Homo sapiens: one gene and its partner. The protein of the gene in region 2 interacts with the protein of the main gene of each other region in a pairwise test. Each region holds a gene or a part of one and is shown on either strand. Other genes may lie near its edges.

Region 1 (3,648 bases), about 46 Mb from region 2:
CTGCCTACAAGGGGCCAGACAGGGCAGTGGCAAGCAGTGGCTGGGCCCCCACCCGTCCAAGCAGCCCCCGCACCATGTCCCAGAGAAAGTTGCCAAGCCAGTAGAGGGTGGGGGACAGGCCCCCCATGAGCTGCAGGTGCTTGGCTCGGGTGACTCGCTCCTCAATGAGGACAAGAGTGAAGCTGGCCGGGACAAAGGACATGGCAAAGACCACACAGATGGAGACGAGGACGTCCACCGAGGAGGCCATCCTGGAGGTGAAGACATGAGAGCTGTTGTAGGGTGAGGGTGCATGGGTTGCTCAGAGCAGAGCTGAACACGCCATTGATGGGACAAAGGTCTATGGGGCAGTCAGCAGTGGCAGAGATGGCAGGGGCAATTTAGGGATGAGGGTGCCTGGGATTTGGCAGCAGAGGTTGTACAGGTCTCAGGCAGGATAAAGGTTGGTGGGATGAGGATGTGTGGGGGAGGCTGGGGCCCGCTGAGTCTGAGGAGGTCCCATTTCCCTGGCTTAGGGAGCAGAGGAACAGTTTCTATCCCCCATTTATAAAGCAAGAGTGTGTCAGGGTTCAAATCCAGCTCCCACCACCCCAAACGACAGAGAAATGGAGGCAGGGTAGGACGTGCAGGGTAGGACATGCAGGGTGGAGGGACTCACAGTGCACCCTCAGACAGCTGCTCCTTGGTGAGGTTCAAGGGGTGGTTGAGTGTGGTGATGCTGTGGGCGTGGCGGGCCGGGCCTGGGGGCAGGTGAGCACGGAGGATTGCGTTGCTGGCTCGGTTGACAAAGGCCACCATGGAGTGCCAGCCTTTGTTGTTGAACCAGATCTGGGTGGGGGTCAAGGTCATAGGGTCAGAGCAATGGGGTTGGACCTTGCTGTGACAGGACGCCCACCTGCCCCCCCAGTTCCCACCTTGAGACTGTCCTGAGCATCCAGGCTGTGAGCCCAGGCTGTGAGGTTTTTCAGGACACGGTCGAGGGCCCCGCCAGGCAGGGGACTCAGCAGCGCCCACAACTCCTCCACTGAGCGGCCCAACTCTTGGCCCGAGGGCAGGCCTGGGTCTCGGCCCCCCAGCGAGAAGCCTCCGTATCTGTGGGGCCATGCAGGCAGGGAAGGGGAGCTGAGGGCCGGGGGGGCCGGGAGAGCTCCCAGGGGGCAGGCAGAGGGCATGGGAGTGGAACTGGGGCAGGGGACCCCAAGCTAGACCCCTCCTCACCTGACCTCATTCACCCACTTCTTAGTCTTCAGGCTGTGGGAGAGATGGACAGAGACACAGGCAGACAGGGATGTGGGACAGAGAGAGAGATGGTGAGAGGGGAGCACAGAGTCAAGGGTGGACAAAAACAGGAAAGAAAGCCGGGCGCGGTGGCTCCTGCCTGTAATCCCAACACTTTGGGAGGCCAAGGCGGGTGGATCACCTGAGGTCAGGAGTTCGAGACCAGCCTGGCAACACGGTGAAACCCCATCTCTACTAAAAATACAAAAATTAGTCGGGAGTGGTGGTGCGTGCCTGTAATCCCAGCTACTCGGGAGGCTGAGGGAGGAGAATCGCTTGAAACTGGGAGGTGGAGGTTGCAATGAGCTGAGATCACACCTCTGCACTCCAGCCTGGGCAACAGAGGGAGACTCCATCTCAAAAAAAAAAAAAAAAAAAAAGAGGAAAGGAAGGTACGCGAGACTCCCAGCCCGTAGCCCCAAGCTGGGCATCCAACCCCTCCACTTCCTCCTCCAGGACCACACCAGCCCCAGCAACCCAAGGACCCATGCTATAGCCAGGGAAACTGAGTCCCAGGGCATGGCTCACCCCTGGCGCACCAGGCGCGGGTAGGTCTTGACCAGGAAGTCAGACAGGTTCCGGCCTGTCAGGTTCTGAACCACTTCCCCAGAGCCGGTCACTGCCTGGGGCGGAGGGGGACCACCAGCTGCAGCCGGGCAGTCGGGCAGCAGGCGCCGGGCACCGGGCCGGCTACACTGGCAGGCTGGGGATGGAGACTCTGGGGTCCAGTTGCCACTGGCCAAGACCTTGGCCACTTCAGCAGGAACTTCTGGTGCCGAGAACCTGCAGACAATGGGCTGTGCACACTCAAGGGCGCTGCAGGGTCAAGGTGAAGGTCTGTGGGCACCCAGCTTCTGGGGGTTCCTGGAGCCACAGAGGCTCCCAGCTCCCAGGTGGGCACAGGGGATGCTCCAGGTGCCCCCTGAGGCTCCCTGGCCAGGGACCAGATGGGAAAACTGAGGCCAGAGAGGGGAAAGGTCCAGGCCAACAAGACGCCTCACCTGTGGGAGCTATGCTGCACTGGGGGCTCCTCCAGTCCTGCCTCCTGCAGCAGCGCCTCGAGCAGCCGGGCACGTCCAGGGTCCCCTGGGGCGTCCTCACTGTGTGTGAGGGGAGATGTAGGGTCAGGGCTGTACCCCCAGGTCCCTAGTCTTCCTGCCACCAGCCCCTTCCTTCTGCACCCACCTGAAGAAGGACACCTGAGCACCGTACATGGTGGGACTGAGCCGCAGAGCCGGGTAGTGCCCGAAAGGAGGCACGATGAGGCTGAACACGAGGGCCAGGCCCACAAAGAGGGCAGGCAGCACGATCTGGGGGACCAGCCCATCAGCTGCTGCTTCCATCCACCCTCCAGGCTTGCTTGCACCTGTCCCTGCTCCTGCTCTACAACCACCCATGGCTCCCCAGTGCCCTCAATAAATGTGCTTTGGGTTGGGAATACACACGGGGGTAAGGGTTTGGATTAGGCCACTGAGTGGACGGCCAGGGTAGGGAACTCAGGGACTCCCATGCGACTCCCTGGTGCTAGCCCTCCTCACCTGGGCGAACAGGCCGCGGCGGCTGCGGCGGGCAAGCAGAAAGCGCTTGAGAAGCAGGGCCTGGAGCTGCTGGCGGGTCAGTGCCCAGCCCTGTACCCGGCCCACGGCGTCTGGCCCAGAGCCCTGGTCAGTCTCTGGGGCTGACCCAGCTGTGAGGGATGAGAGGGTCAGTGCTCACGCTGCTGTGGGGGGGTGGCTGGGAGGACCCCAGGGCCACTGGGAAGGACTTACCTGGTTCCCCGTTCTCCAGCGCTGTCTCCTGTGGCGGCATCTTGAGCCGTAGGGTTACGTCTAGGCCAGCAATGCCTGTGCATAGGTGCTGCCCGCAGCTGCCATCTGCAGGGCCATCAGGGGTCAGGGTCAAAGTTGAGGGTCACGGATTGGGGGATCAGGAATCAGGTATAGGGTAAAGGCTATGCCTTGGGCCACACTAAGCCAGGGATGGGGACCTGGCCTCTGGTCCCACTCTGGACTGGGGTCAGGGGTCAGGGAGCTGTGGCCGCACCCTCCATATCTGTGTCCGCAGCACACTCCTCCACCACCTTCAGGAAGATCTGGGGAGACAAGCAGGGGCTCAGAGACTGGACACCGACAGGGAGAACTGGGGGCTTGTGAGCCCCCCACCCCTCCTACACCATGGGTCCCCCAGGCCTTCCCAAGGGACATCTGAGCCACCAGAGCTCCTCATGTGCCATGCCTCCTCCCTGAATGTCCTTGCTGCTCATAAACACGCTATTCATCCTTCAAAACACCACCTCCTCCAGGAAGCCCTCCTCCTGGCCCCACCTCACCACCACCCAGGCCTCACACCTCCTCGAGGCTGGTGTCGGAG
Region 2 (3,648 bases):
TTGGCCAGGCTGGTCTCAAACTCCTGACCTCAAGTGATCCGTCTGCCTAGGACTCCCAAAGCGTTGGGATTACAGGTGTGAGCTTCTGCACCTGGCCCTGTTTCTCATTATTCTCCTTACCATTGTTATTGAATGGCCTTTAGTTAATAAGCACCACTTGGGCAGACAGTGGACTGTTTTTGATGCTTTGAGGACGAATGGGGTTGATATCTGTACAGATAGACAGGAAAACAGATATCGGGCACGTTAAGTGGAAAAGATGAAGAAATGGAACAACGTATGTTGAAAGCTCCCATTTCTGGTTAAGACGTTACAAAGGAAATGCCATCTACGATACCATTGCTTTGGGCTTACAGCTGGGCAAATTATATGCACAGAAAGTTTCCTGGATTGGGCTGGGCATGTTGACTCACGCCTGTAATCCCAGCACTTTGGGAGGCCGAGGTGGGCGGATCATGAGGTCAGGAGATTGAGACCATCCTGGCTAACACGGTGAAACCCTGTCTCTACTAAAAATACAAAAAATTAGCCGGAAGTGGTAGCGGGCGCCTGTAGTCCCAGCTACTCGGGAGACTGAGGCAGGAGAATCATGCGAACCCGGGAGGTGGAGCTTGCAGTGAGCCGAGATCGCACCACTGCACTCCAGCCTGGGCGACAGAGTGATACTCCGTCTCAAAAAAAAAAAAAAAAAAAAAAAAAAAAAAAGAAAGTTTTCGTTTTCTGGATTGTAATCAACAAGGGCCAGGAAGGGTGGAGTCTTTGCGGGGTGAGAGGATGCGTGTGGACAGTGATAACAGCAGCTAGCCTACGTATGACACCCACTGAAAACCAGCGCTATACACTCAGCTCTACCCTTCTAACTTGTTGAATTCTTACAACACCCCCTAAGGCAGGAATATTATTATTCCCATTTTACTGAGGCACAGATAGTTTAGGTGACTTGCCCAAGGCCACACAGCTGGTAGGAATTTGAGGGTTTTTGTTGTTGTTGTTTGTTTGTTTGTTTTTTATGATGCAGTCTCGCTGTTGTCGCCCAGGCTGGAGTGCAGTGGCATGATCTTGGCTCACTGCAACCTCTGCCTCCCGGGTTCCAGCGATTCTCTTGCCTCAGTCTCCCGAGTAGCTGGAATTACAGGAGCCCACAACCATGCCTGGCTGATTTTTGTATTTTTAGTAGAGACCAGGTTTCACCATGTTGCTCAGGCTGGTCTTGAACTCCTGGCCTCAAGTGATCCGCCCACCTCGGCCTCCCAAAGTGCTGGGATTACAGGTGTGAGCCACTGTGCCCGGCTAGGGGGGGTTCAGTTTTTAAATGCTGTACTCTTTCTTTCTTTCTTTCCTTCCTTCCTTCCTTCCTTCCTTCCTTCCTTCCTTCCTTCCTTCCTTCCTTCCTTTCTTTCTTTCTTTCTTTCTTTTTCTTTCTTTCTTGGGACAGGGTCTCACTCTGTTGCTCAGGCTGGAGTGCAGTGGCGCGATCATGGCTAACTGCAGCCTCAAACTCCTGGGCTCATGTGATCTTCCACCCCAGTCTTAGAAAAGGTTGGGATTGCAGGCACGAACCACTATGCCTGGCTAATTTTTAAATTTTTTGTAGAGACAGAGGGTCTCACTGTGTTGCCTAGGCTGGTCTTGAACTCTTGGCCTCAAGCGATCCTTCCTCCTCAACTCAGCCTCCCAATGTACTGGGATTACAGGTGTGAGCCACTGCACCTGGCTAAATTCTGCACACCTTTTACTCTAGGGATAAAAATAATACGAAAGTGGAATGCCAGACTCCGAATACACACACCAAGTGGCCTGGACTCTTCACTGCTACCTGGCATGGGGGAGGGGAGTGCCCCAACTTCCTCTCTGTCCTTCCTGTTGCCTCAACACCAGCTGGAGTGCTGAGCAGTGCCAGCCAACCCATAATAGTCAGCAGAGAGCCTCAGGGCCAGGTCACTCTGACATTGTGGGGGTGGGGGGGTGGGGACTCCTGCCTGGGTCCTGTGCTACCCACAGCTTTGTCTACCGGAGCCTGTGTGCCACGTGCTGGACAAATCTTAACTCCTCAAGGACTCCCAAAACCAGAGGTAGGTTCACCTCAATGACTCTTGTTTCCCCGATGAGGAAATAGGCACAGCCAGCTGCAACTGACACCCACAGTCATGGAGGCCGGGGCTGCTCAGGACCACTTGCTGTGCTGCCTGCCAGCTCTCCAGAGCCCAAGATTTGGAGATGGTAATATTCTAGGGCATGGGGTTCTGCAGCGGGGACTAACACACTTTGAAATTTACCTACTTAGGGCTGGGCGCGGTGGCTCATGCCTGCAATCCCAGCACTTTGGGAGGCTGAGGTGGGCGGATCACAAGGTCAGGAGTTCGAGACCAGCCTGGCCAATATGATGAAACCCCGTATCTACTAAAAATACACAAATTAGTTGGGCATGGTGGCGGGTGCCTGTAGTCCCAGCTACTCAGGAGGCTGAGGCGGGAGAATTGCTTGAACCCTGGAGGCGGAGGTTGCAGTGAGCCGAGATTGCGTCACTGCACTCCAGCCTGGATGACAGAGCGAGACTCTGTCTCAAAAAAAAAAATTTTACCTACTTAGCTGAGTGATCTTAGGTAAATTACTTAACTTCTCTGTGCCTTATCTGTAGAATAAATATAACAATAGTGTCAAATTCAGACAGTTATTATAAGGTTTCAGTGAGGTCAGGCACGGTGGCTCATGCCTGTAATCCTAGCACTTTGGGAGGCCGTGGCAGGCAGACCACTTGAGGTCAGGAATTCCAAACCAGCCTGACCAACATGGTGAAACCCCGTCTCTACTAAAAATACAAAAAATTAGCCCCGGGCATGGTGGTGCACGCCTGTAATCCCAGCTACTCGGGAGGCTTGTGGCAGGAGTAATGCTTGAACCCAGGAAGCAGAGGTTGCAGTGAGCCAAAATAGCGCCACTGCACTCCAGCCTGGGTAGCAGAGTGAGACTCCGTCTCAAAAAAAAAAATAAATAAAATAAAATAAAACAAGGTTTCAGTGATACAGTGTTTAAAGCTGCGTGGTGGCCACTGCCTGTAGTCCCAGCTACTCAGGGGGCAGAGGTGGGAGGATCACTTGAGCACAGAGTTTGAGGCTGCAGTGAGCCGTGATTGCACCACTGCACTCCAGCGTTGGCAAGATGGCGAGACCCTGTCTCTAAAAAAAATATATATATATAAATTTGCCAGGTGTGGTGGTGCACACCTGTAGTCCCACGTACTCAGGAGGCTGAGGTGGGAGGACCACTTGAGCCCAGGAGTTCGAGGCTGCAGTGAGCCAAGATAGTGCCATTGCATTCCAGCCTGAGTGACAGAGCAATATCTGTCCCTAAAAAAAAAAAAAAAGTTGACACAAAACACAAAATGTTCAAGAAACAGTGGCTTCCAATAATAATAATTTTATTATTATTATTATTGTCAGGCACAGTGGCAATCATGCCTGTAATCCCAGCAGTTTGAGAGGCTGAGACAAGGCAGGTTGCTTAAGCCCCAGAATTCAAGACCAGCATGGGCAACATGGTGAAACCAGATGACCTCCAAAATAATAATAATAATAATAATAATAATAATAATTAATCAGGCATGATGGTGTGCACCTGTAGTCCTAGCTACTTGGGAGGGTGAGGTGG

What was found. The genes of interacting proteins can lie anywhere in the genome.
Region 1: the proteins of C5AR2 (region 2) and ABCA7 interact in a two-hybrid assay, tested with the Homo sapiens proteins (one large-scale study listed by BioGRID and IntAct).

Annotation. Positions count from the first base shown.
Region 1 is NC_000019.10:1,053,510-1,057,157, reverse strand, and holds part of ABCA7 (phospholipid-transporting ATPase ABCA7), read right to left. Parts: coding exon 3,627-3,648; intron 3,371-3,626; coding exon 3,322-3,370; intron 3,153-3,321; coding exon 3,048-3,152; intron 2,966-3,047; coding exon 2,817-2,965; intron 2,589-2,816; coding exon 2,464-2,588; intron 2,379-2,463; coding exon 2,280-2,378; intron 2,062-2,279; coding exon 1,807-2,061; intron 1,252-1,806; coding exon 1,219-1,251; intron 1,093-1,218; coding exon 915-1,092; intron 829-914; coding exon 659-828; intron 252-658; coding exon 74-251; intron 1-73. UniProt on the Homo sapiens protein: Catalyzes the translocation of specific phospholipids from the cytoplasmic to the extracellular/lumenal leaflet of membrane coupled to the hydrolysis of ATP. Transports preferentially phosphatidylserine over phosphatidylcholine.
Region 2 is NC_000019.10:47,335,098-47,338,745, forward strand, and holds part of C5AR2 (C5a anaphylatoxin chemotactic receptor 2), read left to right. Parts: intron 1-1,997; exon of another isoform or gene 1,998-2,072; intron 2,073-3,648.